Regions from separate parts of the Homo sapiens genome. Here regions 1, 2, 4, 5, 6 and 7 are each linked to region 3. The links come from fine-mapping of genetic effects on gene expression. Tissue or cell type: whole blood. Region 3 holds a variant in brackets; each other region holds the start of a gene. Each region is shown on its reference strand, or each on the opposite one.

What was found. PIP is the estimated chance that this variant, and not a neighbour inherited with it, causes the effect.
Region 1: AKT1 starts here. The variant in region 3 is fine-mapped to the expression of AKT1 in whole blood (TOPMed, PIP 0.98).
Region 2: PPTC7 starts here. The variant in region 3 is the best candidate, but not a certain one, in a credible set for the expression of PPTC7 in whole blood (TOPMed, PIP 0.89).
Region 4: it holds the start of VSIG4, and the variant in region 3 is the best candidate, but not a certain one, in a credible set for the expression of VSIG4 in whole blood (TOPMed, PIP 0.84).
Region 5: SYN2 starts here. The variant in region 3 is the best candidate, but not a certain one, in a credible set for the expression of SYN2 in whole blood (TOPMed, PIP 0.87).
Region 6: it holds the start of EXOC3L1, and the variant in region 3 is the best candidate, but not a certain one, in a credible set for the expression of EXOC3L1 in whole blood (TOPMed, PIP 0.90).
Region 7: it holds the start of CIC, and the variant in region 3 is the best candidate, but not a certain one, in a credible set for the expression of CIC in whole blood (TOPMed, PIP 0.74).

The regions. Positions count from the first base shown.
Region 1 is chr14:104,793,826-104,797,825 of GRCh38, forward strand. It overlaps AKT1 (AKT serine/threonine kinase 1), which reads right to left and starts at 1,923. Exons shown (of 15, transcript NM_001382430.1): 1 at 1,659-1,923. RefSeq lists enhancers at 1-388, 389-1,030, 3,072-3,844, 3,845-4,000 and silencers at 1,295-1,614, 1,645-1,694, 1,875-2,234.
Region 2 is chr12:110,581,033-110,585,509 of GRCh38, forward strand. It overlaps PPTC7 (protein phosphatase targeting COQ7), which reads right to left and starts at 2,286. Exons shown (of 6, transcript NM_139283.2): 1 at 1,777-2,286. The coding sequence starts at 1,999. RefSeq lists silencers at 1,919-2,068, 2,109-2,438.
Region 3 is chr7:50,340,319-50,344,318 of GRCh38, forward strand. All of the region lies in intron 3 of IKZF1 (IKAROS family zinc finger 1), which reads left to right. Among named protein-coding and RNA genes, the nearest start is that of IKZF1, 38 kb to the left of the region's middle. The variant A/G (reference allele first, on the strand shown) is at 2,297.
Region 4 is chrX:66,037,637-66,042,113 of GRCh38, forward strand. It overlaps VSIG4 (V-set and immunoglobulin domain containing 4), which reads right to left and starts at 2,444. Exons shown (of 8, transcript NM_007268.3): 1 at 2,308-2,444. The coding sequence starts at 2,362.
Region 5 is chr3:12,002,288-12,006,764 of GRCh38, forward strand. SYN2 (synapsin II) reads left to right here and starts at 2,101. Exons shown (of 13, transcript NM_133625.6): 1 at 2,101-2,641. The coding sequence starts at 2,265. RefSeq lists an enhancer at 2,800-3,300.
Region 6 is chr16:67,187,570-67,192,046 of GRCh38, forward strand. It overlaps EXOC3L1 (exocyst complex component 3 like 1), which reads right to left and starts at 2,567. Exons shown (of 14, transcript NM_178516.4): 1 at 2,402-2,567; 2 at 2,062-2,114; 3 at 1,451-1,611; 4 at 1,152-1,371; 5 at 1-268. The coding sequence starts at 2,107. RefSeq lists enhancers at 4,309-4,477, 4,408-4,477.
Region 7 is chr19:42,267,366-42,271,842 of GRCh38, forward strand. CIC (capicua transcriptional repressor) reads left to right here and starts at 1,887. Exons shown (of 21, transcript NM_001386298.1): 1 at 1,887-2,016; 2 at 4,409-4,477. The coding sequence starts at 4,419. RefSeq lists enhancers at 877-1,386, 3,546-3,595.

The DNA of each region.
Region 1 (4,000 bases), not on the chromosome of region 3:
AGCAGTCCTCTGCTACCCTTCCAGATGGGCCTTCCTGAGGGGAGGAGGGTCCTCTCTGGGACCTCCAGGCCAGGCAGAGACCCCTGACGACCTCTGTGGAATGGATCCCAACATGGGTCTTTCCACAGCCAGCTTAGACGCTCTCCCCCCAGGCCACCTTTCTGGCCTCCCGAGGCAAGGGCTGGACACCCACAAAGGGTTGCTTTGCACTGATTGTCTTAAGCTACACTTAGAATGGCAGGAAGGCCCACTGCCTTGTGTCTAATGCCAGGACAGGGAAGACCACACCTTACCCAAAGAGGGAAATGCCCCAAGTACTTAGCAGGATGGAAAGCAGGCCAGACTCGAGGAAGGCACCGCAGGACTCCGAGGGCAGGGCTCCGAGCCGCGCACGCCTCAGGCACAGGGGGCTCTGACGACACTGAGTGGGCGTGGCCTGGAGGCAGAGGGCTGGACTCAAAGACCTCTGGATGTCCCCCCACCCCCACACGGGCCTGAGCCCCTCCAAGGCCTGCTGCTGACAGAGTCAGACAGCTGTCCAGAGCCATGTGTAAAAATACATCTGTGCTCACACAGGGTGGTGTACGTCTGCACAGAAACGTATACACCAGGCCAGCACAGGGCTGCCTGTGGGGGCGGAGGGACCCCGACTTCCCACAGCCTCCGTACCTGCCGCCTGCCTTTACCATAAGCACATATTCTTGCTACTATTATTAAGTCACAACTTAAAAAAAAATACTCTGTTTTCGAAAGGGCTCCTCCATCTGCCTCCAGAACCCTGGTGTATGAGAAGTCTACACAGCTCCCGGGAGAGGCAACCGGACCCCCACCAACGGACTCCGTCCGCCCTTCGCTCGGATGAGGGACTCAAAGCAGTCAAGAAGTGGCCACCTGGAGCAAGGCCGAGAGACCCAGGAGTGAATGTGGGGCGGCCTCTGGCTGCAGAGCAGGGGCCCAAGCTCACCCGCTGACCAAGGCAGCACTCAGAGGCCGTCCCGACAGGACCAAGCTCGCTAGCGCCCCAGGATACTCAATCTAAGGGGCAAGCCCCAGCTGCCCTCCAAGCCTTGGCCTCTGGGATGGGCGGGCAGGACCTCCAGGGCCCACCCAAGACAGGAAGCAGTTCCGGGGCCCAGGAGGGTCACAGTCCTTTGTGGCTAGCCTGGGTACCCCGCCACCACGTACAACTTTTCGTCCGTGGGAAACGAAGTCTCCTTCCGGGGCCCTCCCACAAACTTGAAGGCCGGCCGCGGCGAGTCTTTCTCCAACCCCGGGGCACCTCCGCCGGCTGCCTCGCTGGCCCAGCGCCCGGGGAGCCCCACGGCCCGCAGGGGCACCCCGAGCCCCAGCTCCAGGCCCGGCGGCGTCCCTTCTCTCGGGTCCCGGCCTCGCCCGGCGGAGCGGCCTCCCCAAGGTCATGAGGGAGGCTGGGGCCGGCAGCCTGCACCCCCGGCGCCCGGCGTGGGGCCGCCCTCCCTTGGCCGGGCCCGCGCGCCCCGCGCCCTCCCCGCCCAGGCCCGCTCGGCCACTTCCTGCTCCCGCTCCTCCATTCTGGCGGCGCCGCGGCTCGCGCCCCGGCCCGACCGGCCGCGAACAAAGCGGCCCGGCCCGCGGGGAGGAAATCCAGGCCCGGGCGGCCACGGCGGGCGGGGACTCACCGGGCCGCCGCGTCCGGGCGCGAGCGCGGGCCTAGCCGGGCCGCGGCCTCCGGCGCCCGCCGCTCCGCATCCCCGCGGGCCGGCGCTGGGCGGGGCCGGGCTGGAGGCCGCGGCGGGCGGGGGCGCTGCTCGGGGCCGGGCCTCGCGTGCCGCCGCCGCTCGGTGCCCGGTGCCCAGCGCTCGGTGCTCGGCCGCCTGCTCCCGTCTTCGGGCCGCGCTGCGTGCGCTGGGCCAGCCGCCTGCCGCGCTCGGTCCTGCCGCCGCCGCCGGCCCGCCCTCTCCCCGCCCCGCGCCCGCCCCGCGCCCGGAGCCGCCCGCCCACATCCGCCTCCGCCGCCCGGGGCGTCCCCACCGCGCGGCCGGCGGCGAGGGCGGAGCGCGCTCGGGGAGCGCGCGGCCGGGCTGAGGGGCAGCTCCCGACGACCTGGGGCCTGGGCTGGGCCGCTAACGGAGCCCGGCCACCAGCCAGCCCGTCCCGGGGCCACGCCCTCTCTGGCCTCAGTTTCCCCGTCTGTAAAGTGACCCGGCGCTTCTGGGCTCGCTCTGCCGTGACCCTAGCAGAAGGGGCCCGAGACAGGTCAGGGACGAATCCCGGACTTCTGCCTCCGCGCGCGGGGCGGGGGTGGCTTAGGTTGACTTTCAGGCTGCCCCACTCTGGGGGGCGTGGAGGGGGCGGCCAAGAGTGACCTAAAAGGCCCAATCCCAAGACCTTGTGCCTCTGGGGGAAGTGCGGGAGGATGCCAGGACAGGAGGTCAGTTGGAGGTGGGCCTCCAAGGAGCAGGAAGGCTCCGAGGGGAGTCAACCATTCACCTAGGTACTGGCAGCTACACTCACAAAAGGGGGACTTTGCTGGGGAGTGGGAGAAGAGGGGCACACCTTGCCTGGCTCCCACCTTGAGCTGGGAGCAGACACCAGACAGAGGAGGAGCGGTGTCTAGGGTGGGCTGTGACAGCTGACAGCCCAGAGCCCTCCCTGCTGGGTGGACTTGGTCAGCCCGGACACCCAGTCCGAAGTCCACTGGGAGGCAGATGGCCCGGGTATGGAATGAGTAAGTGGGACACAGACCCCTTTCTCCTGGACACTCACAGGAGAGTGCAGGTGACTGCCACCCCGACCCCTTCCTAGCCAGAAGTTCCTCCGACAACTGCCCCTCCCCCATTCCAGAGGCCCACAGTTGATAATAACCCTTTTGTGAAAGACAGACTCTTGTGAGTTACCTTCCTGAGGCTGCTAAGTATTGGGGTTGGGGGAGCATTTTTATTTTCAGCCAGAGTGAGTTCAGCTGGCAGCAGGGGAGGGGGTGGGAGGAGATGCAGACAGAGGCAGCAGGTTCGGCCCAGTGCTCAGGACAGAGTCTGCAGCCAAAACTCGGGCTTCATCCCTGCCTCTTGGGGCTGACCAAGAGAAGGACTCTCTCCCCCTGCATGAGGGCACTCGCTCCTCAGACAGGGGACTCCCCATTCCTGCCTCTCGCCTGAGCACCTCTGCTCCCTCCCAGCTCAGACTTTGTAACCCCAGGAAGGGCCCACCTCCAGGGGGCCAAGTCAGAGGCCCAGTGGTCTGCGCCGCTTGGGTGGGATACCTGACACAAGGGTTGCCCCCAGAGCCTGGGCGTCTGGTGTCTGTCTCTCACCCAGCAAACCTGCACCATGAGCCACCTGGGGCTCCCTCTGGGACTGTCCCACCTGCCCACTGCTCCCCGAGGAAGAGTTCCTGGTATCTGTCCACCATCCTGGGCTCTGCCATGCAAGGATGGAGGAAGGAATTCAGGGAGGAAGCAGAGGGTAAGAGGGCCATGAGACAAGGCCAGCAAGTGGCCGAGGCTTGGGGATGTGGGAGGGAGCAGGGCACCCTCTCATGGAAGAGGCAGTGACATTGCGGGCTGTTCTTGAAGTGGTTGGACCTCTTGCTTATTTTGCACTGGCTGTCTCCAAGGAGGCCTCCCAGTCTTCCCAGCCTGGTGCCCTGGCATCTGCTGGTGCCTGCAACCCACTGTGGGCCCCACACTCCAGTCCTGTCTTCACCTTGGCATGAACTGCCCTCCCCCAAGACGGGGATCTCCCAGTGGGCAGGGCCATCTCCCTCTCCTCCAGCGTCCCAGAGGGAAAGCAGAGTCCTCTCTTCAAGAACACCCCCTCCCACCCCAGACAGAATGGTCAGGAGAGAACCCAGCCCCACGGCTGCTGCTGGGACTGCTGAGGTGCTCTGTGGCCAGATGTTTCCGACAAAAACTGCTGCACCAGGGAAGGGCCCGACGGCTGCCTCCTCCCAGAGCTCAGGGGCCTCCTGCCCTGTCACCTTCTGCAGCTGCTGGCCGGGGGCAGGACTCGAGGGCCCTGGG
Region 2 (4,477 bases), not on the chromosome of region 3:
AGCCACCACGCGCAGCCCAGCATACAGATTTATGAGGTGAACCTTAGAGGCTCATTATCCCCTATCCTATGTTATGAACACAACTTTAAGAAGCAACACAGGGGCCAGGCTCACACTTGTAATCCCAGCACCTTGGGCGGCCGAGGCGAACACGAGGCCGATCACGAGGTCAGGAGTTCGAGACCGGCCTGGCCAACACAGTGAAACCCCATCTCTACTAAAAATACAAAAATTAGCTGGACATGGTGATGGGCGCCTATAATCCCAGCTACTCGGGAGGCTGAAGCAGGAGAATCGCTTGAACCGGGGAGGCGGAGGCTGCAGTGAGCCAAGATTGCGCCACTGCACTCCAGCCTGAGTGACAGAGGTAGACTCCGTCTGAAAAAAAAAAACGCAGCACAGGTCACAAGCTCATTGAGTGAGGCACTTCTAAATGTATCAGGGAAGACAGCCACTGACAGCTGACTTCGGGGTGGATTTGTACAATTTCAATCTGCAAGCTGCAGGACCTTTCTAAGTCTCCCTCTCATGTTAATATCAATAGCGTTGCCTAAACATTAAATGCTTTTTCTTCAACCCAGGTAATGGGGTCATTCATAAATTAAACTGAGAACAACCTTTCCAGTCCCATGTTCACAAACACTACATGTAGTAGAACCAAAGATACTAGGCAATTATTCTGAGATCAGATTAAAAAATAATTACTGTCATAAAAAAGTTACAGAATCATTTGTTCCAATGCCAAACTCTGCCTCAGCATATGAAATTTAAAGTAACCAAAAACTTAGTCTCACCTGGGAAGGGAAATCAAAGTGACATTTGAACCCAAGTTCAATGACAACACGTCCTTCAATTTCAAAGCGAGCGCATTGCTTTATTCATTCAAAGAGTTTTAACGGCACAATATCCCATAGCATACACAAAATCTCCTAAGGCGTACATTATGGTAAAGTTTCTGACTGCTTGTGAACTATATTTAGCCCTTTCTGCCAGCTCTCTCCGTAGTCTCCCACCCCCAAAAGGTATAACTGGAATAGGCCTCAGGGAGCACCTGTGGCCTGAAAAGGCTGTGACCAATCCTCAGAGCTTTACCGGCTGCAATCTACAAGTAGGCTCGACCATTCTATTTTGGATCAAGGAGACTCTGCCAACCCCCAAGTGACCGCAAGTGGACAAGATCAATTTGGGAGAAAACGCTGTGAGGGTTTTTTCGCCAAGCCAGCAGCCCCCACCGCCACACTCCGAAAAGGGTGAAGATTTGGTTACCATCCAGGCGGCGAAAGAATACGGCCGGGCTGTCTGGGGGCTCACGACTGCCTGTCGGCCGGCGATCCCGCAGCCTGGGCCGGGCTGTGGTGTCGGGAGCACGCGAAGAGGCAGGGATCCCCGGGGCATGCGGAGAGGGAACCAGAACGAGGTTAGGAGCCTGCAGGTGTCGCCCAGGGAGGGGACGAGGTCGCCCAGGGCTGGCACGGCCGAGTGAGACCGAGAGTGTGGCTCTGGACTCGGACAGACCGGTCACACTCTCGGGTTGTGACCTTGAGCACACGACTTGACCGCTGTGCGCCTTAGTTTCCTCCTCTCTAAAATGGGGGTCGTTCAAGCGGAAAACGCGCCTCGGAGCGCTTGGCACGGCGCCTGGCGCATAGTAAGCGCTCCCTCCATGTGAGCGCTCTGGCTCCTTTCGCCGCCGGGAGGAACTGGGGAAGCCCCGCGCGGGGAGTCCCCGGGAGGCGGATCCGAGGCTGGGGCAAGGGAACCGGGTCGGGGACTCACCGAGCACGTCCGCGGAACGGTGCCGGGCCACGAAGCACGCGTCGTCCCCGTAGCACGCGCCCTTCTTGAGGAGGCCCTTACGGAAGTCCTTCCCGAAGCCGCAGCCGGCCGTCACCAGTCCGTAGTCGCCGCCGCCGCCGCCGCCGGCCCTGGGGTCGGTCTGCGAGAGGCCGCCGAGCACGGCGCGGGCCACCAGCCGCCCGTACGAGAGGACCGAGAACATCGCCGCCGCCGCCCCCCCGAGGAGGCGGGGGGCCGGGGGAGCAGGAGGACGCGGAGGCCCGGAGCCGGCTCTCTCCTCAGCCGCAGTCGCGCCGCCGCTGGGGCGCTCCTCAGGGCGGCGCGCAGTGGCCGCCGCCGCCCCTGCCCGACGCGCGGGGCCTCGCACGCGCTCAGCCGCGCGCACCGGAGCCAGAGCGAGGTCAGAAGCGGCGGCTCCTCCGCCTCAGCCCAACTGAAGTCCCGGCTGCAGCGGCCGCCGCCGCCGCCGCCATCTTCCGCTCCACTAGCGTGTTCCGGGCGGTGCCGGCAGCACCGCCCCCTCCCTGGCCCTGCCCCTAGCCCCGCCCCGATTCACCGCTCAGGCCCAAGCCCAGCCCCTTGGGCTCGCTGCCTTATGCAGTCACCAAGGTTGAACATGCGCAGAGGGTGCGGACGCAGTGTCTCTTGGGAATTATAGTCCCGGAGTCGTAGTCACTTTTGACTTGGCTGCCAAAGATTTAGGACCTAGGGGGATTCCTCAGACGCGGGACCTATGTTAAGTTAGTAGGAATTGCAGGTGGGCCACGTGAGGGTTTTCTACCCTGTTTTAACCGTATCTTTTAAAGCCTGTTTTAAATAAATAACGCCACCATTCCTTTAAACAAAAACCTGCAAGAAACCAGAATGGAGTCACATAATGAGAAACAGAGGTACACAGATCTAGTGACACCTCCCCAAGTAATATACTGGAAGGATTTAGGGCGGCAAACTGTTTGGAAAGAAGAGACTTTTTGTAGTCTTTTAGGAAAAATTGAGAAAATGTTATGTGTCCCTATCAGAGTGGGAGGGGACACAGATGGTGTCATGTCCCTTTTGCTAACTGGCCTCTAGCCATGCTCACAGCTGTCTCAAGACCTTTGCCCTTGCTTTCGCTTCTACCCTTTGGAATGTAATTCGTTTACCTGAGGGTCCTGTGTTTTCTGTTGCTGTATCCCCAGAACACGTGAGCACCCAGTAAATATGTGAATGAATGAAAGAATGAATGAATATTTCACTAGATTCTAAGTTTCCCAAGGACAAGGATCATTTGCTGCTCAATTATTAGAATCTAAAGCAATGCCTGGCACACAGTAGGAGAGTGTGTAAATGTCTGTGGAATAAAAGAAGGAATAATGGGCTGGGCGTGGTGGCTCACACCTGTAATCCCAGCACTTTGGAAGGCCGAGGTGGGCAGATCACTTGAGGTCAGGAGTTCAACACCAGCCTGGCCAACATGGTCTCTACTGAAAATACAAAAAAAAATTAGCTGGGCTTGGTGACAAACGATTGTAATGCCAGCTACTCAGGAGGCTGAGACAGGAGAATCGCTTGAACCTGGGAGGCAGAGGTTGCAGTGAGCCGAGACAGCGCCACTGCATTCCAGCCTGGGAGACAGAGCTGGACTCCATCTCAAAAAAAAAAAAAGGAAGGAGTAATGGAATAAGAACACAAATGATAAAAGAAAGTCATGTTTGTTGAATACAGGAATGATTGAGTGAATGGGGTTCACAAACAACAGAAAATGAGCTTTGGGGCAAGTAATTCAATTTAGAGTAATTTTTAGTTTGATTGAAACATATATTTCTCAGAAACAGCAGTCTTTTTCTAGTTCACTTTTAACAAGACCATTGTTACTTTGGGGATTCCCACCTCGTTTTTAAATGGTCCTTTTTTATGCTTTCTTAATATATTTAAAATGCTGCCAACTATCAACTCAACACATATTATTCCGTTATCCTAATTACTGTCATCATTAAACACTTTTGCAGTTCACAGTGTGCCAAGTACTGTCTATATATATGTTTCTGTCTTTAAGAGCTTTCATCAAAATTGGACGGAAGAAATGACTTCACGTAGTGGCATTTTGTCAAATATACAGAACCCAGAAAATGTTCATTTACTGGATAAATGGTATAGTAATGACAATAATGCATTCACACCTTCCTTTTTTTTAATGGCACAAGAATTGGAGAGTGCCCAGAAGAGGGGGTAGTGCCTCTCGGAATCCTCTACTTGGCATTTATATTGCTGCCAGCTGTGCTAAAGGTAGCTCTTTCAAGTACACATACCACTACCAGATCCCAGTCAGTCTGGCAGGTAATTCTACCCCAAGGACAAACTTTTTAAAATAGCATGTCAACCCTATTTCTTGCCTCGTCAAACTCCTTCAGACTGCTCCTACTTTTCCTTTTCAGGGCATATATTACCTAATTTCCATGTCAGTCACAAGAACTGGTTTGATGGGATGAGTAGGAACCTAAAATGTGACTCTAAAGCCAGTAACTTCTGCTCCGATGGGGCTGCTGTTTTCATGATTAAGTGATACCAGTGCCTTGAGTTTCCGGCAAATGAATTTCCTGCAAGTGAGTTTCCTGCAAATGAGTTGCCCACAGAAGCACGTGGCGAACAGAATCCTTCTCAAAGCTCCTTTGCAAGTTTTAAAGGAACAGGAGATAGGGCC
Region 3 (4,000 bases):
CCAGGAGAGTACTTCCCCCACAGGGGATGTGGCTGCAGGCTGTCGATTTCCACTGAAATCACCAGGAGATGATTCTGGTGAAGCCCTGAACATCCGGTGTCACTCCTCACCAGGCTGGGTGTGATCGATGGAAGGCCTTCAGCATGGCCCCCTGCTGCATGGCAGAGCCCAGTGGCAGATGTGGCTGTTCTCTTTTTCAGAGTGAAGGACTGTTACCCTAGAAGTGAAATCCTGCTGAAATGAGAAAAGTGCTGTTATTATATTTCTACAGGCAGCTATATGATCATTTTTATTATGATTCTTGGAACCTGGCAGAATTTTGACTGCTTTTGCAATATCTCTGTGCTCTCCAGTTGAACTTGGTGGCAATAAAATTAAGAATCTGCCAGTGCCCCCCAAGCATTTCTACTCTGTCCATAATGTTTAGTGACAATTAACTATTACCAGGTGTAGCCACCCTTACTTAATCTTAGTGTTATGGTGCAAGTAATCCTTAGTGAAATTATTGTTCTGTAGAGAATGCTGTGATCTAAGTGAAGTGACTTTCATCCTGAGATGACAATGGAGTTGTTTTTGTCACTGTAAAGGCTGCATTTACTCGCAGTTTTAAAGCATTATTGCTACTTATATATGGTCTCAACACTGATTTTTATATTTGACTTTGTAGCTTTAAGTGTAAAAATTTCTGTTAAGGTTTTATATGTGTTAGTTAATTTTTCCCATTTCAATAACCATGTTTTATTATTGATGGAGTCTCCTAAAAATATACCCTTAAAATCTGCTTGCCCTGTGCCTGCACACATATTTTAAATGTTGGGTATGGAGTCTTTTTTTTTTTTTTTTTAGACAGAGTTTCACTCTGCAGCCCAGGCTGGAGTGCAGTGGTGTGATCTTGGCTCACTGCAGCCTCCACCTCTTGGGTTCAAGTGATTCTCCTGTCCCAGCCTCCCAAGCAGCTGGGATTACACGCCCGCCACCATGCCCAGCTGATTTTTTGCATTTTTAATAGAGATGGGGTTTCACCACGTTGACCAGGCTGGTCTCGAACTCCTGACTTCAGGTAATCCACCTGCCTCAGCCTCCCAAAGTGCTGGGATTACAGATGTGAGGCACCGTATCCAGGCTGTATGGAGTCTTTCTAATCAGGACATAGGCAGACAGTCCTAGCCCAGCTTTATGCCTTATGAGACGCAACAACGTTGAACAGTCATTGTTTGAGGGACAGAGGTTTTACAGATGGATGATAACTAGCATCTGTGGAACATTATTTGTGAAATATAGAAATCAGAAATTCCAGCGTAGCACTGTCCAAGGGGAACATAATTTGACCTGCATATTTGCTGGTCCATTTTTAGTAGTCACATTAAAAAAGAAAAATGACACAGGTGAAATTAATTTGAATATATTTTCTTAATTCAGTATGCTTAAATATTATTTAAGTATGTACTCAATATAAGCAATTGTTAATGAAATATTTTACTCTTTTTGAACTATGTGTTTGAAACCCCGGATGTATTTTTTTTTTATCTTCACCACACATTTCAATTTGGGTTGGTCACATTTCAAGTGCTCAGGAGTCACATGCAGCTAGGGGTTACCTATTGGACAGGCAGGCAGATCTTGAGAGCTCCAAAGAACTGTGTGTCATTATATTGTGGAAAAAAAAAAAACTTTTTAGATTAACCCTTGTTGAATGTTAGCCAAAGACTAGTCATTTATCAACTCTCTAAAAGTAGTTTTTAAATCAATTTGCTTTTCAAAACATTTTCTCAGTGTTGTCACAAATGTATGTGAACATCTGCTTTTTAAGTCTTTCATTTTTTGCCCACATTTGATGTAAAGAAAATCTAGGTCCAGTCCAATTTTAACATCAATTGGGTTTATTTTATGTAGCTGTGTTTTAAGTACAGGTCTTGTACTTGTAGGCATTTTGGTTAAGTACAAAGTAACGAGAATACAACAACATGTGAACATGTCAAACAAATCAGTTTTTCAAAGCTAAGTAGCTGAATTAAATGTAGAAAAACATGACATTTAATTTTTGTCTTCATCCCTTCATTGTATTCCCATGTACTCTATGGTAACTTTTTTAAGTTGGGAAGTCCTCTTTAAATTTTTGAAATGAGGTAGCTGCTTTATAGACATGAGGCAGGTTCCCAGAGAGCGCCCTTGAGGACAGGCTGTAAGTAAACTAAGCTGCAAAGACAGACACCATCACAACTATGGAATTGTTTTGCAAAAATTGTGGAGAGTGATGCCCCTTGATACTTCCTAAAAGATGCTTTTGCAACCTGAT[A/G]AAGCAACCGAGGAGAGGTGGTGAAGGAAAGGCTTTTTTTTTTTTTTTTCAAAGAGAGAAAGAGAAGCAGCAAGCTGCCTGCCTGCAGCCTGAGAAAGCAGTTCCACCTTGGCACCCATGTCCTCATAGCCCAAGCGGGGCCACCCTGGCATGTGAATCTGCTCCGCAGTGTGCAGCCCAGACCCCAGCCTTCCTGTGAAAGGGACACCTCCTGCTGCTAACCGCTGCTCTTCCTGCAGTTCAGGAGACAGCGTGTGCTCCTGTGGCGGCTGCATTTCCTGAGTACACCATGATCCAAAAAGGCACAGATTCGTCATGGAAGCTTTGATTGGGCCGTTACTGTCTTTTGACCTTTCTTGTTTGCTTGCCCTTTTGTTTCTTTCCTCCTTTTTCCTTCCTTCCTGTCTTTCTTCTTCCTTCCTTCCTTTCTTCCTTTTTCTTTTTAATTTTCCTCCTTTCTCTTTCTCCTTTCTTTCCTTCCTTCTTTCCTCTTTTTTTCTTTCCTCCCTCCCTCCCTTTCTTTCTTCCTTCCTTTCTTTCTTCCCTCCTTCCCTCCCCACCCTCCCTCCCTTCCCCTCGTCTCCCTTCCCCTCGTCTCCCTTCCCCTCCCCTCCCTCCCTCCCTTCCTCCTTTTTCTTTCCCTTTCCTCCTTCCTTCCTTCCTCTCTTCTTTTCTCCATCCCTTTCTTCCTTTTAACATTTGATCATGGGTACCATTTCATCAAGATTCTGTTACTTAGGTCCAAGGACTAGTGACCAAATTGTTTTTCCCAGGAGTAAACTTTTCTACAAGACATAGAGAAATGACTGCCAGTGCCATCAGGCACACCATCCTGTGTGATAGGTAACCTAAAATAATGGTACAGCGGGGAGTAACTGGAAGAGTCACAACTACACAAATCTCTTGCATTTTCCTGATCATTAAATGAATTAGGGATTTCCTGGTTTGAGATTTGTGGACAAGGAGAACTACTTCTTTGTACAAGAGGCTTGTGCCAGGAGAAGACACGCTGTGGTTACAATGTTACTGTCTCTAGCTATGGTCATTTCATGTCTTTAACTGAGTGTACCTAGAGTGTAATACAGTGCAGCAGTGATGGGCTGAAGGCCTAATGCACCAGCACACATGCCTGGAAGACCTAACGTTGAGAATCCGCATTTTTTTCATCACTCACATTTATTTTGCATCTCCCTGTTTTGATTACCTTCAGAGACCCAAGCACTTGCTTTTGTATATTTGAGTCTGGGTTTTATTTTCCTTTTAGAAATAGTCCAAAATCCTTTTAGAGCCTAGACCTTTGAATAAAGTGCTAACTTAACCTGAGGAATGCTGTTTTTTTGTTCACAAATAAGGCTTAATTGTGAAGTCGTGAGAATTGCTTTCTGAGCTGACTTATAAATTTACCCACCTCTTTTTCCCCAAACCCCCAAAAAATCCTCCAGAAGGTGAGCCCAGCTTGTTGTAAAAGATTTTGAAGCAGAAGTCCTGGGTTTAAGCTTCAGTTCTCTGCCTTACCAGAATCGGGATGTGTGGGGCAGGCCTACCTCCTCTTTCTTCATCTGCAAAATACATTGAATGAAATCATATTTTTTCCTAAGTATATGACATGTAAAGTGGTATTTCAAAAACTCATTAATCTGCATGACCAGGTCAGAAAAGACACACCTTTTGCCTTGTGTCTAGTGTGTGACTGTCCTCACATGT
Region 4 (4,477 bases), not on the chromosome of region 3:
AATAATTATATAATTATTACTGATAATTACTTATATATAATATATAACATTATATTATATTATACTTATTACTGATAAGTATATATACTTATTACTAAGTATATAAACTTATTACTGATACGTATATATACTTATTGCTGATAAGTATATATACTTATTGCTGATAAGTATATATACAGTATTGAGCTTAATGTGGTCCTGAGACCCAGCCTTATAAAAGCAAATGTCTGATGCCTGTGTAATGGCACTGAAGAAAAGAAAGGTTGAATTTACTAGGTGTGTGCTCCTTTATAAGACCCATTCTAGGTCTCTTTCTGAATCCCCTTCCTCCCATCATCACAAAGAGGTTGACATTTTCCATATCTCTATCCCATTCCCCCACATGACTGGCTTCTCTCCCTTTCCTGGAATGCCTCCTGGATGGAGGATTAACTTATATAATAGATGTTTATAAAATGTTTCTGAAATGTTTAAAATGTATATAAAATGTGAATATTAGAAATTTTTTAAATTTTGATTATCTTGACATATCTCTTAGCCCCACAGGAAGAGGCTAGCAGCTTACTCTGGCCGCTACAGGGTTTTTAGCAGTGAAGCTGCAGTCCCACAGAGTTGTCCAGCTGAGAAACCCCTTTAAGACCAGTCAAGTCAACCTCCTCACTGTACAGATGGGCTAGGAACAATGAGGTCCAGGGAGAGGGAAGGTATTATTTGCAGCTCAGCATAACCTGAGCCTGAGGTCTATAGTATAAGATCCTGTGTACAAATGGAAGGCCTGCTTCCAGGTCTGGAAAAGCTCATAGGCTGGGGAAGGAACAAGACACATGAGTGCTCTCTCTCTCTCTCACACACACACACACACACACACACATGAATGCACACACACATACACACACACAAACAAAGGATTTAAATTTAACATTTCTAAAATGCTCCCTCAAGCCCCAGGCTTAAGCCCTAGCTCAAACCAACAGACTTGGAGAAGGTAGAGAGATACATTATAAAACCTGCTAGAGAATGGAAATGTGGTAGTTATAGAAAGAAAAATGTTTTTTCAGGAGCATTAACTCTGCCACTAATGCTCTTTGGCTTGGGGGCAAATTATTTTTTCTCTTGGTTGACTTAATTCAGAGTCTTTTCTAACTCTGAGGTTCCAGAGTGTGATGGGTCACAGAGCCCCAGGATAGGGTAACCTAATCAGAGTCAGCTACGGAAAGCTGGATTCTTTCTGACCTAACAAGTGACACCAAGCTAACACCTATCCAGCCTTTTTCTCTAGGGATGATAGGGAAGCAGCAAAATCCCCCTTTACCCTATATTGGATCTCACTTAGCTGTTACCCAGGTTGAGTTTCCTGAAAATCCATCTCACTTCTCAGGAGTGTAGATGAGGATAGAGCTTCCCAAGCTCCAAGGAAATAATGCCACTATGGAATAGTCCATCCTCCTTTGGGATTTGTATCCAGCCCATAAATAGCCCAGACAAATTGAGCCATGTCTATAGGGAAGTGAGTTATCCCAGGAATGGGTAAGAAACCAAGTCCTATGAAGACCAGTTGAAAAAGCTGGGGCTGTTCAGCTTGGAGGAGAGAAGAGTCAAGGAGACATAGTACTTGTCCTCAGGGCTTTGAAGGGCTATCACAGGGCAAGGAAGCATCTATGTTCTGTGTAGCCCCAAGAAGCAAAGCTGGGGTTTTTGGATGGAAGTCAGAGGGAACTGGATTTAGTTCAACACAAATAAGAACTTTCTAACAGTTGGAGCTGCTCCTGGATGGACTAGATGGTCTGGGGAGGTAGTGAACAGTGAAATCTCAATCACTACTGGATGTTTCTGAGCACTTATTCATGACAATGAAGGGTGGTATAGGTTACTTCTATAGTCCTATCCAACTCTTAGAAAACACTCCTTCTTCGGGGGCTGTATATTTTAACAGAGACCAAAGCTTGGAAGCAGAGTGGTTAAGTCCAATTGTAGAATTTTAGATGAGAGACAGCAGATGGAGGAAAGATTCGGATGTCATTGGGAACCTTCTTGATGCCCCTGAGATACAAGCCCTAGAAAATAATGCAGATGTTTTCCAAGAGAAAAATCCTTTTTCAATTTCTGCCCAAACTTGCCTTCTGGCTTCTTCAGCAGCCTTCAACTACATCCATCCGTTTTGCTCAAGGCTGAGAGAGCCTGCAGAGTTTGGCTGAGAAGACTCACCTGCCCAGTAGGAATAGGCTTTCCATAGTAGACATTAAACACCAACCCTCTAGCCTTTTGCCTAAGCCAGCAATGGCAGCCAGGCCCCCCTTTCTGCCTTACCATAAGTGTCCACTGTTAGGTGCCCCAGGAGTAGCAGGCCCAGTAAGATCCCCATCACAGCCAGAGCTACTTCTGTCCTTTCTTCCAGCCTCCTGCTACCAAAGAGGCTCAAACTTCTGGTGGCCGCCAGCGTCTGTGACTGCTTACTTCCCTTCCTTCCCTATATCTCTCACTCAAACTCCTAGTCCCATCACACATTCCCCTTCCTTCCCTATTTCAGTACAGGTCATGTGGGGTGCCCCCCTTCCCCCACCTCCTTGGGGTTGGAGGTTCCAGGATGAGTGAAGCAATTCTTCCCCCTGCTAGGGTATTGACTTGACTTTCCTTGGAGCCAATGGGGCTTTCTGGTCTTTGATCTCCTAGGCTGTATTTATTTTGAGTCTCCTCCACAAGATTCAGAGGTTGTGGGGGCGACCTTTGGGATGAGTCTTCCCACTCCAGTATGGCGGTGTTTTCCTTTGTGGTGAGCCCAGGGAGAAGAGATCAACTTTGCTGACCTACCCAATTTTCATTAGTTGTACTGTTAACCCTTGCCTGTGCAGCCTATGCAACTGGACAGGGTGTTGGGCCCGGGGTGCTTTTGGGCTTAAGAGTACAAGAGTTTAGTGTATTAAAGGGCTTTCTACACATCAAAGCTTGAATAATTGACAAGCCAATGGATAAGGCTGTTATGGGTGAATATGCCTCATATCTCATATTGGGGAAGCTCTTTGAATCACTTTCTACAATGGCTCCACCTCTCTGATGGTAAGGGAGAATTCATTTTCATTAATGTTCTCCATGCTTTTTCATAAGGAATTTATTTTTTACTTCTTTTAAGGGAAATTTAAGCCTAGCCTCCAGTGCAGCAGCCCATTAGTGGTATGCTGTATTAGGTTGAATTTTTCATTGACTTCCAATTGGTACAGGCCCTTGACCTACAAGAGAGTAATATTATGCCTCCTAGCAAAGCTCAACTGCTCCAGAAATTGCTCCTCTTCACAGGCCCCAGAGTGACTGTAATTTCATCAGCAGTCTAACTAGGTTTGGCACTGCGCTTTGTCTACTAAGCTTTGAAACAATAAGCACTTTCAAAAGCACAAATACATCCCAAAAATTCATACTGCACTGTAAGTAACAGCTAAGCTTAGTTTACTCTTTGATTGGAGGGATAGGAAAGGACTTGGTCAGGGGAGGGAGGAGTTTGTGCAGAGATGGGGAGTGGGAATATAAAGAAACATACTTGCCAAGGGGTGGCTGCATGCAGATGATTTGGAGCTGTGCACGGGCTAAGGAGACATTCCAGCATTTCAGGACACATTATTACATGGAATTCTATCAATCACCTCTGCCTCTAGGGCCCAATCCCCCTTGGCTGGTTGTTCCTTGTTTTTTGAGTACTGCACTCATTCCATCTCACTGGAAATTTCAGCCATTTTTTCCCACCGGGTCCTCACTCAGGAAACCCTGAACTTCACAGAACCCTCCTTTGATATTTTTCAACCAACACCCTATCACCACTACACCACCACCACCGCACAGACACACACACACACACACACACACACACGCACACACATACACACACACACACCCCTCCCCTTCCCCGCTAAAAAGCCCACTGGACAGATGTAAATTTCTGCCTGGCCAGGTGATTGTGTGTTTTGTGCTACCTCTTGCATTTTATTAGGACCTCCTGGATCTGAAGATAAATAAATGTCCTGGGGAGTATGCACAACATTACTTCAAGGCTGGGAAAGACTTCCAGTCTTGCAGTAGGCTCAGTAGCCCTCTTGATTAGTAAAAGAATTGGATGAGAAGTCAGAAACCTGGAGATAAGCCTGGCTCTGTGTCTACTTCATTCTGAGATCTTGAACAAGTCAAATCTCTCTGAACCTCAGCTTCCCTAATTGTAACATGAACATAATTATACTTGATGCTTGTATCTTTTCAGATTTATAAAAATCAAACTATACTATACATACAATAACAACTATATAATGATAGTTGCTATTTAAAATCTTTTACTCTTCCAGTCACTGAATTAAGCACCTTGCATGGGTTATTTCCCTTGGTTCTTACAACCCCTCAGGTGGGTATTATTGCACATACTCTTGTATCTCTCCCTACCACTCTATACTCCCTTACACTACTTTTCTTTTTCATTGTAGAGCCCACATATTTGTTGAAT
Region 5 (4,477 bases), not on the chromosome of region 3:
CCAATAAACACAAAAACCGAGTTGGGTAAGATTACAGTTCAATTCTCAAACAACTGAGTCCTTATTACATGCCAGGTCCTGTGTTTGGTGTGAAGCCCAAAGATAACTAAGACATAATCCTGTCCTAGAAAAGCTTACATTCTAGTCACCAGAATATTGTATGATAGTTTCTTTGGGGTCTATGACAAAGCCAAGCACAGGATATGGAACACTTAGCCCGCCCTGGAGGATTGACGAAAGGCTTCCTGGAGGAACCATCAACTTACATACCTTCTCCATGCCTTCTCTGGCTGCCTGCCTGCCTGCCTTCTTCACTTTTCTACTGGTAAACATAGCTGCCTCAAGATCCACCTCAAATGTCACCTCCTCTGAGAGGCCTTCCTAAGTCTCAGAGGCAGAATGAGTCCCTCCCTCCTTAGGCCTCCTAACCCTCTTTGCCCAACTGTATGATAGCATTTCTCACATCTTATGTGGTTCCTGTGTCTATCCTCCCTCCATCCCCCAGCCCACATAGATCATGAACTTGCAATAGACAAGAGCCACTTCCCATTCATTTCAGCCTTTCCAGCTCTTACCACTGTGCCAAGCATGTAGTAGATAGGAAGACCACTGTGTTATTATAGTTGACTGGAGACTTCTCTGATAGCACCGGCTCAGAGCTGGATTGTGTATCTCTAGGCCCTGAGTTGAGTGCCAGCTGGGATACAGGAAGCAAGAACTGCCCACCAACATTAGTGACAAGCCACTCCCTGACTCCATTCAGCCCAGTACATACTTACTGAGAACCAATTGAAAAAAGAATTCAGGCATCACTACTGGAATACCTACTGCTGTGTACCAGATGCTTTACATACATGATCTCATTTACTCCATGTAACAACTCTGGAAAGGGTTACTTATTCCTTTTTATCAGCTAAGGAGAGAGGCTCACAGGGGTTATTGATCCAGGGTCACATATCACCCGGGGTAGTCTGCTGTAAAGCCTATCTGCTGTGTCCTGCTCCATTACAACACAAGGGAAAGTATATCTAATGAGAGATGAAAACTAAAGGTCCAAGAGTCACGCAAGATTTAGAGAGTGCACATGGGAAGGTGGCCATCAGAAATGTCTTCACAGAGGTCAAGGCAACGAATAAAATGGAAAAAACAAGTAGAAAGATCTTGAAGAGATGTCCTTCTTGGTATAGCACTGGATGCATCAATGCATGCTAGGAAAGAAACACGGTGGGGTTGGGGGATCCTTAGATATCCCTCTTGGGGTGGAGACCATGTCTCCAGTCTTCTCTTGGTTTTCTCTCACTGGTCAGTGAGGAGGGGGAGAGAAGTACATACTGTTGTTGTCCCTAGAAGTGCAGGAGTGAAAACACACCCCACCCCTCCTTCCATGACAGAGTAGAGAGGATCTGTTTCTCCCCTTTCCTCTCCCTCGCCTTGGAGTAAGGAGGCTGCCTTCCTCCCTAGAAGAGGTATTTCTTTTTTGTCTCACCATAGGGTGTGTGTGTGTGTGTGTGTGTGTGTGTGTGTGTGTGTGCGCGCGCGCGCGCGCGTGTGTGTGTGTGTGTGTTAGTAACAGCGGATTATTCCCTTCCCCCTCTTCTGGGGGCTGGGGAGATGACATCTTTCTCCCCAGCGTTGGGAAAGGAGGTGGTTCTTTTCCTCCTCACTACAGGGTGTTCGTGCTTGTGTGCGTGTGTGCGCGCGTGATTGGGATGACTCCTTTCGTTCTCACCTCCGCATAGGGAGGCTGACACCTCTTATCCTTCCAAAAGGAGTGGGGTCGGTTTCCTTCGCCTCCATTTCAGCTGGGACACGGCTCTTTTTCTCTCCAACCAAAAAGATGGTGGGGCCTCTGGTTCCTTTTCCTTCCCCTGGGGAGAAGGCCTGGCTCCCACGCCCTCCCCGCATAGTCACGCTCAGGTTGCTGGAGGCCTGGGTCGCCCCCTCCTGCAAGCCCCGAGAGTCGCCAGACGCGCGGCTAGGTGCCCTCCGTGAGCGGGGCGGGGCCGCCTCTGCGGCGCGGGGCGGGGGCTATCTCTGGCCCCGCCCCTGCCCCGCCCGCTCCCTCTCCGCGAGCCTCGCGCCGCGCGGGTTGCCTGGCCCAGACCGCCGCTGCTGTCTGCGGGGTCTGGTGCCGGGGCCTGAGTCTCTGCTGGCTAAGCCGCCGCCTCAGCCGCCTCAGTCGCCTCAATCTCGCCTTCCGCCCTCGCTCTCCCTCCGCGCCACCAGACCCCGTAGCCCCGCGCGCCCCCAGCCCTTTAAGCCAGATGATGAACTTCCTGCGGCGCCGGCTGTCGGACAGCAGCTTCATCGCCAACCTGCCCAACGGCTACATGACCGACCTGCAGCGGCCCGAGCCCCAGCAGCCGCCGCCGCCGCCGCCCCCCGGTCCGGGCGCCGCCTCGGCCTCGGCGGCGCCCCCGACCGCCTCGCCGGGCCCGGAGCGGAGGCCGCCGCCCGCCTCGGCGCCCGCGCCGCAGCCCGCGCCGACGCCGTCGGTGGGCAGCAGCTTCTTCAGCTCGCTGTCCCAAGCCGTGAAGCAGACGGCCGCCTCGGCTGGCCTGGTGGACGCGCCCGCTCCCGCGCCCGCAGCCGCCAGGAAGGCCAAGGTGCTGCTGGTGGTCGACGAGCCGCACGCCGACTGGTAGGTGCCGGGCGCCGCCGCCCTCGGGGGTCGGGGTCCGCCGGCAGCCGCAGGCCAGGAGAGGACGGTCCCAGGTCGCCGAGGAAACGTTTCAGACCAATAAAAAGGAGGGTCCCCGAGGTCCCGCTGGGAGGAGGTGCGGGCTGAGCGCGCGCGCGTTTGCGGGGTGAGGGAGGGCATCCATCAGCCCGGAAAGGCGAACCCAAAGCTAAAATACCCCTCAATTGCCCCAGGTCCCCCAGGTCCCATACAAGAAGGAGCTACTTTATGCAACAGGAAAGGCCCTTAGGAAATAGTTTTTTTGGGGGTAGAGGAGGGGACACACTTGTTAGCTTAGACACATAAAATCTGAAGTGAAATAGTCCCAGGAGGCCGAAGGAACATTTAGGGCCAGTAAAAAAGGTTTAACTTCATGAAGCACGGAGTGAATTTGGAATGGAAATTGGTATTTTGGAGGGAGAAGGTGGTGGTGGGTTTTTTTTAACCAGGACCCATGAAGGCTGATATCAAGTATTGACATCAGGTTGATGAAATCACACATGTAGTGGCCCAGGTGTACACGGGCTTGTTCCCCGGAGCATGGCTGAAGTCTCTTTATGAATAATAAAATTGTTGTATTTTGTGCAGCAGGGAGGGGACGTGTGGAATTTTTTTTTTTTTTTTTTGATTGCTTGTTTTTCTGAAATGTGCGTGGTGGGGGGCGGGGCGTGGAAGTGAATGGTAGCTTTTTCTAGCTGAAAGATGAAGACCTTGGTAAAATATACTGGATCATTAAAGGGGTACAAATAAAAGGAGACCTGCCTTAATGTAGTAGATGGGAAACTTCAATAATTTTTTTTTTCTTCTAAAGAGATAGGTAGCATGTTTCCAACTTAGAATGGTGAAGGCTGCTGCTTGGTAAAAGTACGAATGAGGTCCACTGAAGACAAATTAGTTAAAAGCGGCTCTATTTTATAGTTAACCTAGGGAATGGTGGGATGGTGAAATTGATAGGTGAAGGGCTTGGAGAAATGAAGAGGCCGAGAATCTGGGGGTGCCTTTTCTCCAGGAATGTGAGCAAGGGTTTTGTTTTTTTTTTTTTCTCATAGGGGTTGAGGTTGGAGACTGGACCTGAGTGTTCTTCCCAGGAGGGGTGCACAGAGAGACCACAGAGCTATTTCTCTCCATTTCCTCTTTTGGCTGCTTCACTGCTTTCTCTCTCTAGCATTCTCTCTTTGGGAGACCCAGAGGGAGGGAGTGCTGGCGTGTGGGTGTGGTGGAAATGAGATGCAGATGTGGAGATGCCCTCCTGCTGGCTGCTAATGTCACCATTCTGAATAGTCCTTTGGGTGACTTATGTGGTTGGCCTTTTCAAGAGAGTAGAGTAGAAAATCCGAAAGGACTTTTGCCAGGAAATGACAAAGGCACATGGAAGAGGGTAATGGGGAAAGTGTAATGCATATGATAGTGCCACTGGCAGCCCTCCTTAGAATTACTCTGACTCAGTTCATATCAACAAGTGCTTATTACGGAGGAAGGGAAGGTAACCAAGCTAGTAAAGGTGCTCAGTCAGAGCATCCATTATATGCCAAATGCTGTACTCTCAGCATGATATCTCATTGCATTTTCTTCACAAAACTGAGGCTTAGGAAAGGTAAGTAATATGTTTACAATCATGTAGCCAGCAAGTGGTAGAAGCAGGATTTGAACTTAGGCCTGTTTGACTCCACTGCTTTCATTCCACTGTGTTATATTGCCTCACTATTATTATTAGCAATATTAATAACAAGCTCCCTCTAGGCAGTGTGGGGGCCTTTTAAGAGAACTCACTCAAATTGGGACACAAAGTGGATACAT
Region 6 (4,477 bases), not on the chromosome of region 3:
CCAGTCTCCACCTCCGCCACACGCACAGCAGCCACCAACAGGGCTGGGTCCTCCCGTGCCAGCTTCCCTGCGGCCCCTGCAGCTGCTTCCACAGCCTGGCCCAGTGCCTCGAACAGAAGGTCCAGCCCCTGGAAGACTGGCAACTCCAGGCCCCCCAGGGGTGCCCACGTATCCTCTCGCAGCTGCTCCAGCTCCCGAAGGCTCACATATGCCTCCAAGAACTGTTGGCCATCAATCAGAGTCTGTGTGTGGGACACTGCAGCCGGCACTAATGAGAGTGAAAAGGAGACGGCCCTGGGTCTCAGCCTTCCCACCGCCTCAATGTGTACAGCAGGGGATACTGAGGCCCAGGGCGGGGGTGATGCATAAAATATTTAACAACCAGTAGAGTAAGCTGGGCACAGTGGCTCATGCCTGTAATCCCAGCACTTCGGGAGGCCAACGTGGGTGAATCACTTGAGGTCAGGAGTTTGAGACCAGCCCGGCCAACATGGTGAAATCCCATCTCTACTAAAAATACAAAAATTAGCCAGGCATGGTGGCACATGCCTGTAATCCCAGCTACTGGGGAGGCTGAGGCAGGAGGATTGCTTGAACCTGGGATATGGAGGTTGCAGTGAGCCGAGATCACACCACTGCACTCCAGCCTGGGTGACAGAGTGAGACTCTGTTTCAAAAACAAAACAAAACAAAAAATGAACAAAAAACCATAAATAAATAAATAAATAACCAGTAGAGTACTGGCCAATCTAAGAGGATCTTGGCAATGTCCTAAAGACCTGGTGGGCCAGAGGTCAACCCATGAACTCATGGAATATGAGGAAGCTGAGGATCCTGGAGGGAAGGCAGGGGAAATCGGGGGGTCCTGCCAGTACTCGCTCAGCCACTCTGTTAGGGAAGAGTTTGAATATACTGATAACCAGGTGGCCAGAGTCACATGACTGGGTGTCTGTCCTGACTCAAGCATCCCACACGTGGGAATCCCAGGATGAGCTGCCTCATAGGCCATGGGAAGCCCGGGCTACTGTCTGGGAGGTCCCTGGTGTGCTGCTCTATGCAGTTCCCCATCTAGTGCCCCAGCCCCTTGATTAGGGATGGGTGTTTGTGGACTGACTATTGGAGGCTGAGGCCCAGGGTCCCTGCATGCTCACCTGCCCGCAGCCGAGGCAGCAGGTGAGACAGGGCCTGCAGTTGCTTGTGCTGGGCAACCCGCTCCCGTAGGGGCTCTAGAGTCTGTAAGGCCTGGGACATGCCCTGGAGCAACCCACGGGCCTGGCTCAGGGCCTCCCGGGTTCCCTGCACCACCTCAATGGCCTGGGCCAGCTGCCACACACCAGTCTGCACGCCTTCCAGGTATGACTGCATCACTGACTGTGGAAAGATGGAGCCATGAGGCTGGGCCAGCCCTGCAGCACAGTCCCAGCACCCGCACCCCCTGCCCCATGCCCACCTTGAGGCGCGATTCCAGGGAGCAGGTACGCTGCACCTCGCGGCTGCGGTACTGGCCTAGCCTGGCCAGCTGCTCCGGCCGGTAGAAGATGCCTGAGGCCCACTTGAGCGCTGCACCCCGGGCCAGCTGCTCTGCCCGCTCCTGCTCTGGCCACTCAGGTCCTGGGAAGGAAGAGCCTGGGCAGCCGTGTAGTCAGGGAGGAGGGCCCAACGACCCCAGTCCCAGCTTTCTTATTTATTTATTTATTTATTTATTTGTTTGTTTATTTGTTTATTGAGATGGAGTCTCGCTCTGTTGCCCAGGCTGGAGTGCAGTGGTGCAATCTCGGGTCCCTGTAACCTCCGCCTCCCGGGTTCAAGCGATTCTCCTGCCTCAGTCTCCCGAGGAGCTGGGATTACAGGCGCGTGCCATCACGCCCAGCTAGTTTTTGTATTTTTAGTAGAGACGGGGTTTCACTATGTTGGCCAGGTTGGTTTGGAGCTCCTGACCTCAGGTCATCTGCCCATCTTGACCTCCCAAAGTGTTGGGATTACAGGCGTGAGCCACTGCGCCCAGCCAGTCCCATCTTTGTTGCCATCATTCCTCCCCTAGTCCACCCAAAAGGTTCATACCAGGGGACAACGCCGGCTGCATCTCATCCTTGGCTGCTGAGTCCATTGTGGGCCTGGAGGAGCCAGAGCTGAGGTGGGCCCGGGGCAAGCAGGCAGAGTAGATGCCCCTGTGAGCTGCTGCCTCTGTCTAAGCCCTTCTGAGAGGAGGAAGGAGGTTCTTCCCGGCCCCCTCGGGAAGTGAGAGGGAGCGGGTGTGATGCGGAGGGCACCTGGGAGGCTTTGCCTGCTAGGTTTCCCAGTCGTGCCCCTGCAGATGTCAAGCGAGACAGAGTGGGCACAGGCCTCCACTGGACCCTGGTCCTGCTCTGAGCTGCACAGGACAGTTTGGTACAGAACTTACCAGATTTGATCAGGCGTCCAGTTCTCCCTCCAAAAATGACCTTGGCCTTGAGAACAGCCCTCTCCCCAATGCAGCTGGGCACGCCTGCCACTTGCTCACAGGGCCTGGGCAACTCCAGCTGACTCCAGCGTGCAGCTGAATTCCTCTCCCCAAGGAAGTCTCTCTCCCACTCCCCACCCAGAAGCCCCTTCTTCCCACCGAGGCTCCTCCCTCCCCAAGGCCATCAACAGAAAGGAAGGAAGCTGAGTCTCTGGCATTTTATTCCCAACAGGAAAGAGTGTCTGCACAGAGGGTGGGGACAGCTGGGCGACACTTCCCTGAGGGGCGGGGGGGTGGGGTGTACTTGTACTCAACCAGTCTTGACCAGCCTACCCAGAACCTCTTAGTGCTCAGGAGAGGAGATAGGGATTTGCTAGACTTGGCCTCAACCTGGGGTGGTGGGCAGAGTGTGCAGATATGGATGCAGACGACATCAACAGCACAGGATGAAAACTGTGTTGGCCAGCCTCTGAGGAGGATGTGTACCTCTGCGGAGGAGTGAGAGGTGGCAGGCTCTTGTGAAGAGGGGTGTGGTGGGGGGTGGTAGGAGAGGGTCATGAAAGCTGTGTTTATCTTTTTTGTTTTAGACAGGGTCTTGATCTGTCACCAAGGCTGGAGTACAGTGGCACCACCATAGCTCACTGCAGCCTTCTGGGCTCAAGCGATCTGCCTGCCTCAGCCTCCCAAAGTGTTGGGAGATTACAGGCGTGAGTCACCGCAACTGGGCAGCTGTGTTTATCTTGAGAGTTATAGGGAGCCAGGGAAGGGACTATAAGGTGGTAATTATTTAGTGGATGTTCAGTCCACCACCCAAATCCACCCTTCAGGACAGAAGTGCTCATTCTCCAGCTGCCAGGAGTGTAGGCTACTGAGATCACACCACTGAGTCTCTCAGTCAATATTGGGGTGCAAAAGCATGGTACCATCGTGTGAACATGAACCCTTCAGAAGTGCTACCCCAATTTCAGAGATCCTAGTGGGATAGGCTGAGGCCTATAATATAATTGCATCTGCTCAATTCTGCTTGTCTTAATCCCTTAAAGGTGTGGATCCTGACCAGGTGCGGTGGCTCACACCGGTCATCCCAGCATTCTGGGAGGCTGAGGTGGGAGGATCTCTTGAGCCCACGAGTTCAAGACTAGCCTGGGCAATATAGTGAGACCCACATCTCTAAAAAACTAAAAATAAATGAGCCGGGCATGGTGGTGCATGCCTGTGGTCCCAGCTACTTGGGAGGCTGAGGTGGGAGAATCGCTTGGGCCCAGGAAGCTGAGACGGCATTGATCTTGCCACTGCACTCCGGCCTGGGCAACAGAGTGAGACCCTGTCTCAAAAAAAAAAAGTGTGGATCCCCAACAAACTTGCTGCAAAACCCTATCTCGAGTCCCATTTCCCAGAGGACCTGATCTAAAAGAAACAATAATAAATAGTAACAATGTTAAAAGTTACAAAATGACCGTATCACACATTCCTGCATGCCAGGAATGACTGAGTGCTTTACTGATATTTACACATAGGTAAACACGTTTGCATTGGCTGAAGTGTTCATAACCCCATAGTCTCTGAGCACTGTACTGTGAGGACAAGACGAGCGAAAGATGAGGCTAGGACCATGGGTGGAACAAGGTGGACAAGGTAGATATAGTTAGTGCTTGCTGTTTGGCAGGAAGTGAGGGATAGGAATAGATGGGGTGACCCCAAGACAGTAGGGCAGCCTTTAGGAACAGGTTTGATGTGGCAGTAAAATGAGTTTGAAATATATAAAAGAATAAATAAAGAGAAAAAAATGGAAAAGGAACAGGTTTGAGGGAGCAGATTGGATTAGTCAGGTAGTGTGGTCTCCTCTCCCAAGATGGGGACTAGGCAGAGTTAGTGATGTTGGGGCAGATTGGCAAGGAAAGTTCCGATGGCGTCCCCTTCTCTACTGCCAGGGCGGCCCACTGACGCCCTTCTCATTCCTCCCCAACTTCATCCCAACTCCCCGGTCTACCCAGGTAGTTTTCGTCTTATTCGGAGGCTGGACATTTGCTACTGGTC
Region 7 (4,477 bases), not on the chromosome of region 3:
GACAGGAGAAACACTTGAACCCAGGAGGCGGAGGTTGCAGTGAGCCGAGGTTGCGACATTGCACTCCAGTCTGGGCGACAGAGCAAGACTCTGTTTCGGGGAAAAAAATAATAATAATAATAACAACAGTGTAGGTTATAAGATTCCTTCCGAGTGTGAACTCCTCGTGGACAGTGAATTTCCCCCAATCTCAACACAAATAATTTGTGAACAGTGGGACTTTCTCATAGATGTGAATATCCTTCATATTCCATGAACCCCATTGGACAACTAATATTTCTTCTATGCTATGAACTAGCTCTATGCCCTAGCACATTCTTTCACACGTAGTTTGAGTGTTTCATGGACAGTATGACTTGCAATAGACTGGATGCAGTTTCCTCACAAGTGGTGTGAATTCCAGTGTGGAATCTGAACCTGTCACAGGCAAAAGAAAGCCTCCCTGCGGCCAGCGTACCCATATTGCTTCCCATTAGCCTCGGACCAGGGCGAATACAAAGTGGAGGGCATAGATGCATTGCAGACAGGTTCACCATCTGGTTGTAAACCCGTATCTGGGCAGCAGGCATCTACTACAAACAGGGCATCTCCCTGTCCTCCTCCACTCCAGTGTGATACCCTCCTACCCCTGGGATCTTTAAAAATCTGCCTCTGTCAGGGGCGTACACCCACAAAGTGTAGCTCTCCACGTAATGCAGTGCGAAGCCCCAAGAAGCGCTGCATTTCGTCATCTCGGCCCCCTGCCCCAATGCCTAGTGGGCTGTCAAACTGCGCTGTCCTAAATGTCAAACTCTTGGAGGAGGTGACCTGTCCCCCGGGCCCCAGGCCGCGCGCGTTGCCTATACTGCAGCGCGCGACACCCCACAAGCGCGCGTTCTCTCCCCTCCCGGTGGCAACAGGGCTTTCCGCGGGGCCGCGCCAGACTTTTCGAGACCGTCAATTGGTCGTAGTCCCGGCCACCCGGCAGCCAATCAACAAGGGGAAAGGTGACATCACTGGTTCTCCTCCCCTCCCCCAATCCAAACTTCCCTACTCCGTCTACCGGCAGCAACAACCACGTGGGGGAGGGGTAAGAGAGTAGAACCGGTGAGGTCATTGCACCGCCCCGGCCGCTGCTGATTGGCTGCGGGGCTCGCGGGTGGCGGTTGGCTGCTCCTTGCACCTCCCCCTCGTGCCGCTACCGCTGCCACTGAGAGGAGCCACCGGCGACGCCAGAGCCAGGAATACGGGTGAGTCGGGGCCCTGGGTCTAAGATACTCCTGGCGTCCAGTGAGACTCACGACGAACTGCCCTTTTCGACTTTTTCTCCTCGCCGGGTTTCTTTGGTGCTCCAAGCACTCTGTCACATGGGAGTTGTAGTCTGCCTTGTACTGTCGGCTATGGGCCGAAGACGTGAGAAGACTACGGTTCCCAGCAGGAACTGCGACTAGCCGGTCAACAAACGTTCGGGCCACGCCTTCTACCTCCGTTCATTGGACAACCCGTCCCTTAGCCCCTCCTCCTTTCATTTCATTGGCTACTGTCCCTCACAGAGGCTGGGTTCCGGCCTAGGCTGCATGGCGACTGGGTACTGTATTTGTCATTTGGAACTAAGACGGCCTGCAATTGGACACGACTGGTGTCCTTCACTTGTTGTAGGGTAGGGCCCTAGGCAGATCAGGCAGTCGTAGGCTCAGGTTGGTGTCGGTCCCGGAGGGAGGCCGGTCTTGGACTTTGGCCCCGCCCCCTAGCGCTGCCCGATGGGCCCAATTGGTCGCCGCGAGCGTCGCTCGTCGTCGAGAGGCGGAGCCGACCAGTCTGCGGATATCTATTGGTCTAGGCTGGCGCCGGTCAGTGGGGTTGTGATCGCTGATTGGCTGGCTGCTCCAGCTGTTGCAGGTCCATTCACCATTTTGTGTGTTGGAGTAAAAAAAAAAGGGAGAATCGAGAGGGAGAGCCGGAGGGGGGGCGGGGAGGGACCGGACCGGACCGAGCCGGGGCCACGGCCCCCCGCCCCGAAACCCCGCCGAGCCCAAGGTGAGGGGCGGGGCCAGGGCTGACACAGGAAAGGGGGGTCCGGGGGGCTGGGGGCCGAGAGGGGACAGGTGGCAGGGACGGGGAGGGGGTACAGGGGGAAAGGGGTGGGCGGAATGGTGGGAAGGGAGGAGGGAGTGGAGGAAGTGGTGGGGGTTTGACAGAAAAAGGGTAACTGGGGGAGGGGGTGGTGGGCAAAGAAGGGTAACAGGAATGGAGGGGTGACAGGACTAGATCAGGGTGACAGGGAGAGGGAGGGGACAGAGTTGGAGAGTGTGACAAGGAGAGGTGATGGGGAGAGAAGGTGACAGGTCCGGAGATGGCTGACAGGACAGTGACTGGGAGGAATAGGTGACAGAGATAAATGGGGGTGACAAGGAGGGGGTGACAGGAGGGGGCCTAGGGCATTTTAACCGAGAGGTAGAGATAGAGGTAGTGACAGGATGAGAGAGAGAGTGTCAGAGAAGCTGGTGCCAGGAGGGCTAATGGGAACAGAGGGTATGAGACCCCAAAGAGCCAGGGCCTGGGCTGGCCTGGGCTCCGGGAGTTACTACTCAGATCTGAGGAAGGTGAGGGCCCCCGGGGCTTGGGTGGGAGTTATTCAGACAGGGTGGACAGGAAGAGAGTAGGCCCTAGGGGAAAGAAAGCAGCTCTGGGGCGAAGAGAGGCTGGGCCAGGCAGCAAGGTCTAGGGGTCCAGGCGGCATAGTTGTAGGCCCTGGGTGGGGTATGCAAAGGTTTGTGCTTGGAAAAAACTGGAGCCAGATCTCAGTCCCCAACATGGTAGTCTAGTGGGTCAGCGGGTATTAGGTGGTGATGGCTGCCCAACTTCTGGGCATTTGGGTGCCAGCCCCGGGACGCCCTCCAGGCTCTGCCTGTGAGGACCCCAGGATTGGCCCAAGAAAGGGCAGGCCTGGGACTCCAGGGTCCACAGGAGGAGCAGGCCCCTAGTGAGAGAGCATGAGGTCAAGGGTCCCCCAGTAGCTGGAAGACTGAGTCGGGGTTGCCTCTCATTGTGTTTGGCTTATGGTTCTGGGTCCCCCAACCCTCCTAGAGGCCTCTGTTTTGGCCTCTCAGGTTCTCTTAGTCACTTCAGAGTAAAGTTTTTTCCCCTTTTCTTTTCTCAGGGCAGCTCGAAAGGGGGCGGGCAGTAATGACTGTTCAGGAAGTGGGTGAGGTTGGCCTGTTGGGCTTGTCCTGCTTTCTTTGACCTTATCCCACCTATCCCCACTTGGAGTTGGAGGGCATATTTGGGGGCCTGCGGGGGGCTAGCCGACTCAGCCACCCTGCCAGAGCCAGCCCAGCCAGGGCGGGGATGCATGCAGGCAAGAAGAGGGGGGCTGGGCTTGCGGGTATCACGCTGGGTGCTGTGGGGGGAGGAGCAGGCTCCCATCCAGTGGGACAGAGAAACCCTGGGGTGTAGCTCTGTGTCCCACTGTGTGATGACGTGTGCGTGCTTCTGTGCGTGTGTGTGTGTTTGTGCGCGTGCGTGTGCTCATGCACGGCCCCGTGGCAGTGCTGGGTATGAGCTCTTGCCCCAGACATGCCCCTGCCTGCTCCCTGCCAGGATCTGGGGAGATGGCTGTACCTGGCAGCCCTAGGGTGCAGAGCAGAGTGGGCAGCCGTCCCTCGGGACTCTCAGCTGCCCACTTCTTCCCACAGTGCCTGGCCATGCCAGGCTGCCCAGAGGGGCAGAGGGAGGGTGGGGGGGTGGAGAAAGGCTCATATCACAGCCCAGTCACCACCCTTTTTGTGACTTGGTACTTGTGCATGTGTGTGTGTGTCTGAGTGCATGTACTCTCTGCATGGTGACAGTGCGAGTAAATGTGCCCTCTGGATCATGTGACAGGCAGCACACTGAAATGGTCAGGAGCACGGACTCTGGAGCCAGAGAGCCTGGGTTCAGACCCTAGCACTGCTGTTTCCCACCTGGATGATCTTGGACAAGTTGTCTCATCTTTTTGTGGCTCAGTTTCCTCAGGTGTGAAATGAGGCCGATAGTAGCACCTGCTTTTAGGGCTGTTGTGAGGATGAAACAGGTTAATAAAGGCAAGCTTAGCATGGAGTTCAGGACACAGGGAGTGCTCCATAGGTGTGAACTGTTAGTGCTTTTGATGTCCCCTTGGGGCATTCAGAGCATGTGCTCTGTGTCCTTTGCAGAGCCAGCAGGTGTCTGTTCCCCAAGGAGCCAGAGTGTGTATACTCAGGGGACTCAGGTGCTCACCTGTGCCTGGTGCTGACTGAGGTATCACATGAGTTGACAGCAGCCAGAGAGGAGGCCTTGGGGATGGTGGGATGGAGACAGTAGACTCAGCAAGTGGGAAATCTTAGGGTACACTGGCTCTGGAGAGGTTCCTGAGTTGCTCCGCGTAATCCTCCGCTCTCCCACCCTGCAGGTGGACAAAAATGAAGCCAATGAAGAAGGCATGCACTGGCCTTTCAGGTCCTGGCAGTGGCAGCAAGTC